Homo sapiens: one gene and its partner. The protein of the gene in region 2 purifies or fractionates together with the protein of the main gene of each other region. This does not show direct contact. Each region holds a gene or a part of one and is shown on either strand. Other genes may lie near its edges.

Region 1 (4,147 bases), on a different chromosome or scaffold from region 2:
CTTCAAGCACTCAGAAGCTCTGGAAAATTCGGCTGAAAGCTCCTGGAACTGCTGCATGATTTTATGCTGGTCTGCAGAGATATAAGCCATGCAAAACGGCCTCACGAAGCCACGGGCCTCCAGGTCGTATAGGGTAAGGTGGTGCACGTATGCAAAGGCGCCCTCCTTAGAATCTCCCAGCACCACCTTGGAGTCCTCCACGAAGTTCAGCTTGGGGTAGGCAGATCCAGGAGGATGGCCCACGAAGGAAGCCTGGTAATCCACAGACATGATACGCAGGGAGAAGTAATTGAGATCAAAAGTGCCAAAAACTTTGGTGTCATTGGGGATGGTCAGTAAGGGTTGGGGTCCCACCTGCTCAGAGAACTCGGAAATAAGAATGAAGTCCCTCGAAAACTTGGCCCCGGACAGTTTTGACCAGGGGTTAGCACCCTGACTGGCGAAGGGGAAGAGCGGCACCGAGTACTCCTCAGGCAGGGCCGGCTCATTGTAAGGCTCTTCTTCATACTCTTCCTCTTTGGTGAAGGCCACTACGTCAGGGGCGCTGATCATATTTCCAGATATATGAAGAAAACATTGAGAGGAAGTGGGAAAGAATGCGGTGTTAATCGACGCGCAGAAGGCAGGCCTCCGGAGAAGGAAGTGAAGCCCTTACGGCCTTCTTTGCGACTCCCCGAACCCGGGGTCCTAGGCTGCTTCTCACACACCCGAGGAGAAGAACTCTAGCAGCCCCCTCACAGTTGTAGCTCCTCCGGAGCTCTCTGAGGCCTCATGAACGCCAAGGCCGCAGGCCCAACTGCCCTTCTCTTCTTCGTCCGGCGAGCGCGGCCAGCACAAGAAACCTGCTGCGAAATCACCTGCACTCTCCGGAACCCACTGCGACAGCAAAAGCCCCCGCTCTGAACAAGGCTTAACGCGAGGCTACGGGACGCCGCAGGGGTCAGCCAAGCGCTGCTGCCCCTCACTGCCCGAGGGCAGAAACCGTCGCGGCTCCTAGGACGCCACAACCCGGATCCTGCTACCGCGGCGCCGCCATCTTGACATCACATGACTCCTGGTGTCCGCGCCGCGTGACCCGGAAGCGTCCTCGTAGACTTCCGAGCAGGAGATTAAAAAGTCATGAGAAAGAGGCCTTGGATGGGAGTGTCTGGCGGCTCCCCGCAAGAAGGAGTCCGATTAACCAACCACTGCCGGGAAGGAGGGGAAAGAGGGGCGGAGTGAGACGGGGGCGGCGGGAAGGTGGCAGAGGGGAACGTGCTTGGACGAGGGGCGCGGGACAGTCTGGGAGTTGTAGTTCCAGGTCGCTGTGGGGCGCGCGCCTGGCGGAAGTAGCTGGAGAAGGCGGGCGGAAGTTCCACGCCAAGATACTGGATTCGGTGCTGAGGCGGCGGCTGCGGCACGGGAAAGGCTCAGTGACTGAAGCTCCAAAGGCCAGCAGGCTGGTGGGGACGTGACCGAAGCGAGGCTCTGGTTCCCTTTCGGTGGGCGCCATTTGAGCCTCATCTCTGGCTTCCCCAGGATGCGCCGGCAGCCGGGGAGCGGCTCCGGGCGCGAGGTCTGAGGATGATCTTTCCTGTCGCCCGCTACGCGCTCCGGTGGCTGCGACGGCCCGAAGACCGTGCCTTTTCCCGCGCCGCCATGGAGATGGCCCTCCGAGGCGTGCGGAAAGTCCTCTGTGTGGCCGAAAAAAACGACGCGGCCAAGGGGATCGCCGACCTGCTGTCAAACGGTCGCATGAGGCGGGTAAGAAAGCGCGTTCCGATCAGCTGCGTGCCTTAAGGGAGGCCCACCGAGCGGGACAGCGTGGTGGGCGCCAAGAATCGAGATGAAGGCGATTATCTCCCATTTCTCAGGCCTCACTGCCCCTCGTCTGGATTATTGCAGTGGCCTCCTGTCTGCTCTCGGACTGGAGTGCATTTTAAAACGTAGTTGATACATCTCACTCATTTGCGTGGAAACCTTTTGTTTTGCTTGCGCTTAGCAGGTTCCCAAACTTGTCTGATTCTCGGAATCGCCTCGGGCGCTGGCTGCCCTTCGGGTCTTGTGTGAGGCTGGGGAAGTGTGTATTTTACTGTTTTTCCCTAGAGATTCAGAAATTCATTTGGGAACTACTGACCAGATTCCCTTAACTTGGCATTCAAGCCCTGCCCGATCGTTCCCCAGCCAACCTAGCCCTCCCCATCCTGTGCCACAGCCACTGCATTCTACAGCCCTTGTGACTTTCCAGCCTCACAGTGCACACTTACAGCAACACGGTAAGGTTTGGGGATTAGATTTGAAGTCAGCCCTGTTCCTACCCGAATGAACTGATTCTGAGAGAGGTAAGTGGTAAGAATGTGTTCTACACACACGGGAGGCACAAACGCAAGGGAGGATAAGAAAAAGTTTCATAAAGGAGGTGCCACGGGAGACATAAAGAGCTGTCCAGGAAAATATCTCAGATAACAAAAGTAGATCCTGAAATGGTTTTCTGGAGAACTTTTCTAAGAGCATGGGTGGAAGTTCCCTGCTCATTTTTCTTTAGTTCCCAGGGTCCTAAGACCTGTTTCCAGATCAAGGATAGTGGGAGTGGAGCCAGGGTTGTGTGAATGCTGGCTGACAGCTTTACCTGTTTCCAGTGCTAGAAGTCCTGGTGACCAGCCCCAAGGTTTGTCTACTTCTAGACAATGAAGTAGACATTGAAAAATGGTTCTCCTACGCCTAACTTCTTATCCTTCAAGGCTCTGCTGAATTCATTCTCTCTCTCTCCCTTTTTTTTTTTTTTTTTTAAGCAATCCAGAGGTCTTGTATTTATCTATTTTTACCCTATCATACCATGAATCCATAGGGAATAGGTTCCAGCGGCTCAGGCTCTTTTCCATTGGTTCTCACAAAGTGTACTTCCCTCAATGGAACAGGCTGGCACTTCAGGTGAACCCTTTCTCTTTGACTTGCTTCTTTTTTGATCATTTTCCTTCACACATTTCAGGAAAGATCTTGGTTCTTAGAGTGCTTAATATGCTCAATAGAAACATTAATTCTTTGGGCAAGAATCTAGCCCTTGTTCGCAGCAGTGCCAACAGCATGCTGGGTAACATAGACTTTTCCAGTTCTGCCATGTAACATTTGTGGGTCATTCCCTTTTGAACAGTATGCATTCTCACGAAGTCCTCAATATCACCTTCATTGTAGATTCTGGTGTCTGTGGCCAGAGAAACTCCATATTTTTGTTTTGTTTTGTTTGTTTGTTTTGAGATGGAGCTTTGCTCTTGTTGCCCAGCCTGGAGTGCAATGGTGTGATCTCAGCTCACTGCAACCTCCGCCTCCCGGGTTCAAGCGATTCTCCTGCCTCAGCCTCCCTAGTAGCTGGGATTACAGGTGCCTGTCACCATGCCCAGCTAATTTTTTGTATTTTTAGTAGTTTCACTGTGTTGGCCAGGATGGTCTTGAACTCCTGACTTCAGGTGAGCCACCCGCCTTAGCCTCCCAAAGTGTTAGGGTTACAGGCGTGAGCCACCGTGCCCAGCTCGAACTCCATGTTTTCTATAAGGCCAGGAGAACATACATCAGATGCCTCGTCCTCTTTTCCTTTGTGTTCGTCATTTTGGCAAATTACTCCAAGATGGCAGTTCCAGCCAAAAGGAAAGACTTTTCTTGGAAAGAGAATTTTTATTTTTATGTACAGAAAACACAACAGTGTGTACTTAACCCAGTTTAGTGGCAAATTCTTTAGCCTTTGCCTTTTCTAGGTTGGTAATGCAAGCTACAGATTTTGGACCCAGGGCATTGCCTCCCCAGTGACAGCAGATCTCATATGTCGTTGTAATTTGTCCCACCAGCTTAGCCAGAGCTCCTTTGTCTACCAGAAAGTTAACCTTTGTGAAGGTGACAGTGGTGCAGGTCTTCCTGTGGAATTTGACACCACAGTCTTGACGGTGCAGTAGAGAATCCCCATCTTAGGACACAGCACAGGCAGGAAGACAACCAGCTCAATGGGATCCACCACCAGCTGACCCTTCATGCTCTCTACCAAGTTGGTGACGGTGTCAACCCCTGCTCGAAGTGTAGGTGGTCTCTTAGTAGCGACATCCCCTTTGCTGGAAGCTTTCTTCTCAGCCTGGGCCAACGGTTTCGATCTCATCCCTTGCTCTGTCTCTTGTCTGTACTG
Region 2 (3,500 bases):
CCCCAAGGCATTGCGGGCAGAAGGTCTGTTCATCAGAATCTCAGTGATCCCTGTAAGGAGTCAGGGCAGCCACGGGAAAGCAGCTGGCTCTGCCTAATCCTGGGCTGCGGGCTGGGGACTGGAGGCAGGAGGCCTGGGATCTGGGGAGCCTCTGCCCTAGATGACCAGAGTGACTTGCCACAAGTCACACACTCAGGCAGGCCTCAATTTTCCCAACCATAAAATGGAGAGAAAAACCCTTGCTCTTTCTGCCTCAGAGAGAAAGTGGAAGGACTTGTAAACTGTGAAGCAAAATGGGGAGAGGAACAACAGTGACTACCACAGTAGCCCTTGCCTGCTTCTGCTGTTGTTAGACAGACAGACACACACACACACAAGCACACATGCACCCATGTACCTTCTTTAATTTTACAACTCCCTCCATATTCATCTTTTTTTTTTTTATTTTTGGCGGGGGAGAGTTTTGCTGTTTTTTTTTTTTTTTTAGACAGGGTCTCAACTCTGTCACCCAGGCTGGTGTACAGTGGTGTAAACATGGCTCACTGTAGCCTCAACCTCCTGGGCTCAAGCAATTCTCCTCCCTCAACCCCCAAAATAGCTGGGACTATAAGCATGCGCCATTACACCTGGCTAATTTTTGTGCTTTTTGTAGGAACGAGGTTTTGCCATCTTGCCCAGCCTGGTCTCAAACTCCTGAGCTCGAGCAATCTGCCCGCCTCGGCCTCCCAAAGTGCTGGGATTACAGGTTTGAGCCACCGCGGCCTTAATCTTTTCTTCACAGCAGACTTCTTCCTCTAGAGTTTGAGGAGTTATGATAAGGCAAATACCCTTATAACCACCACCCAAATCAAGAAATAGAACTGTGCCGGCCACCTCAGAAACCCCACCACATGCCCTGACTCAATCGTAGCTCCCTCCTTCCCCCTGAACAAGTAACTCTTTGACTTATAGTAATCACCTCTGTGTATTTCTTTATAATTTTTTTTTTTGAGACAGAGTTTCACTCTTGTTACCTTGGCTCACCACAACCTCCGCCTCCCAGGTTCAAGCGATTCTCCTGCCTCAGCCTCCGGAGTAGCTGGGATTACAGCATGTGCCACCACGCCCGGCTAATTTTGTATTTTTAGTAGAGATGAGGTTTCTCCATGTTGGTCAGGCTTGTCTCGAACTCCTGACCTCAGGTGATCCACCCACCTCGGCCTCTAAAAGTGCTGGGATTACAGGTGTGAGCCACCACACCCGGCCATTTCTTTATAATTTTATCACCCAGGTGTGCATCCTTAGGTATCATAGTTTAGACTTGCTAATTTCTAAAATTGCCGTGTATCTTTTAAATCCTGGTACAACCCCCACATGCTCCCCACAACTCTGTCTTTCCCTCAGAGATTATCTGTGGAGGAGCCTGGGGTATTTGACCTACAGGGTTTCTCAAAGCCTGGGTTTTGCTAACTGCACAATCACGGGGACAGATCAATATGCTCCTCTGTCACAATAAATTAGCAACTAAATACAGAGGCTTAGTGTTCTGTCCTGTTTGGCAAGACAGTAATCCTGGCCCTACTTGTGTAATATTCTTTCACCAGCAACAGCCAAGCTTCTTGGTAGTTTTCTATACTCATTTAGTCACTTTCTTACCTTCCATTCGCTCAAACCTTCTCCAATCTAGGTTCCAGCCCCATCACTCAGCAGACATTATTCTCATTAAAGTGATGAATATAGCCACATCACTAACCAAGGGACACGTTTCTCTCCTTGCCTCAACCTCGTGGCAGCAAAAACCTTTGCTGACATTAACACACTCCACTTGATCGTTTTCTGCTTTGGCTTCTTAGAAGAATATTTATTTGTTTATAAATAGATGATTTTCTTAGAGCAGTTTTAGGGTCACAGCAAAATGGAGTGGAAAATACAATTCAATACAGTTCACCTATACTCCCTGGCCCTACACAGGCACAGCCCCTTCCGCAATCCCCATCCCCCACCAGAGGCACGTGTTGCAACTGACGAACCTACACTGATGCACTGTCGCCACCCGGGGGCCCTAGTGTACACTGGGGTTCGCTCTTGGTGGTGTACACTCTGTGGGTTTACACAGATGCATAATGACACGTATCTGCCTTGGCTTTGGCAGGCCCCCATTCTCCTTCCTCCTACCTTTCAGGTGATGCCTCTGCACTCCTTCACTGCTTCTCTTCTGCCCAATTATTTTAAGTGCGTAAGTTCCTTAAGGCCAATCAGATTCTCTTCATTCACTCATTTGTACATTTATATATTTGCTGTGTGCTGGCCTCTACTAGACACCGTGATTCCAGAGACCAGGACAGACTCAAGGCCTGTCCTCATGGAACCTACAGCCTAGTGGGGAAGACAGACATTAAATAATTACTATTTGTGAGGAGAACTTGGAGAAAAAGGACAAACAAGTAAGGGGCCTCCAGTGGGCAGAGGGGAGCCCTAGTATAGAAGGTCAGCAATGAGTTATCAGAGGAGGCAGTGGCCTTTAAGCTGAGAGCTGACAGGAGAGTAGGAATTGGCCAGGCAAAAGATGTAAGAGTGCATGTGTGCATGTAAGTGTGCATGCATGGGTGCATATGTGAGCGTGTGCATGAGTGCCTGTGTGTGTGCATGCATGTTGGCAAGGTGCAGGGAAGGGGGCAGTCCAGGAGAGAAGCCTGTTGCAGGCAGAGGGAGTGGCAGAGAAGAGGGCCCAGGTGTGGGACTGCAGGGTGCCTTCCAGAACTGGAGGAGTTCAGGCAGAGGGAGAGCAGGATAAGCTGAGGCAGGAGGGACCTCCCTTCCACAGCTAACACACGCCTGCCTCCTGTACACCCAGGGCTCCCGTGTGTGCCCAGGAGCCCAGAGCTCTCCTGTGCACCCCAGGCCTGAATAGCCAAATGCCTACTTGATATCTCAACTGGTATGTCCTGCTCCATTGATGAGCCAATGACCTTGCTATCAACTCAGAAGTTGATCCTGTCACCTCGCTCTTACCTCACCTACAAAATGCACTCAGTCACTAAGGCCTGCTAATCCAACCTCTTAAAGAGATCTCAGGCCTCTCAGCTCACACCGCTTCTCACAGCCATTAATCTGGCATAGGCTCTTTCCTGCATCCCTCGGATCACCCACCTGGCCCTCGAGTCCTCAGTCTTGCTCCCTCCCAGCACACACACATTCGTTCCCACATTTGGGTCACAGTCATCTTTCTTACCCCAATCCGACCACGTCCCTCCCCTTCCCCCTTCTTTTCCTCAAAATAAAGTTCAACTCCTTAATACCGACCATAAGGCCCCCCCAATCTGACTCTTGCACCCACTCTGGCCCCAATTCACCCCCGCCATCTAGTCAGGGTGTGGGGAAGAGAGATGGGCTCTGGGAAGGAGCTCACACCCTTATCATCCCTTCTAGGCTGTTTCTCCTCCTACGAAAAATCAGGATGGACATTTCAGGTCTTCCCAGGGCTGAAATCCAGCAGGTGCCCAGAGGAGTGTTTCCCAATC

The links.
Region 1: the proteins of ECHDC2 (region 2) and TOP3A purify together in Homo sapiens (affinity purification with mass spectrometry; 3 studies listed by BioGRID and IntAct, with this or other methods). This does not show direct contact.

What each region holds. Positions count from the first base shown.
Region 1 is NC_000017.11:18,312,195-18,316,341, reverse strand, and holds the start of TOP3A (DNA topoisomerase 3-alpha), read left to right. Parts: upstream 1-1,347; 5' UTR 1,348-1,563; coding exon 1,564-1,743; intron 1,744-4,147. Other genes in the region: guanine nucleotide exchange protein SMCR8, read right to left, coding at 1-552. UniProt on the Homo sapiens protein: Releases the supercoiling and torsional tension of DNA introduced during the DNA replication and transcription by transiently cleaving and rejoining one strand of the DNA duplex.
Region 2 is NC_000001.11:52,911,741-52,915,240, forward strand, and holds part of ECHDC2 (enoyl-CoA hydratase domain-containing protein 2, mitochondrial), read right to left. Parts: exon of another isoform or gene 51-3,500; coding exon 1-50.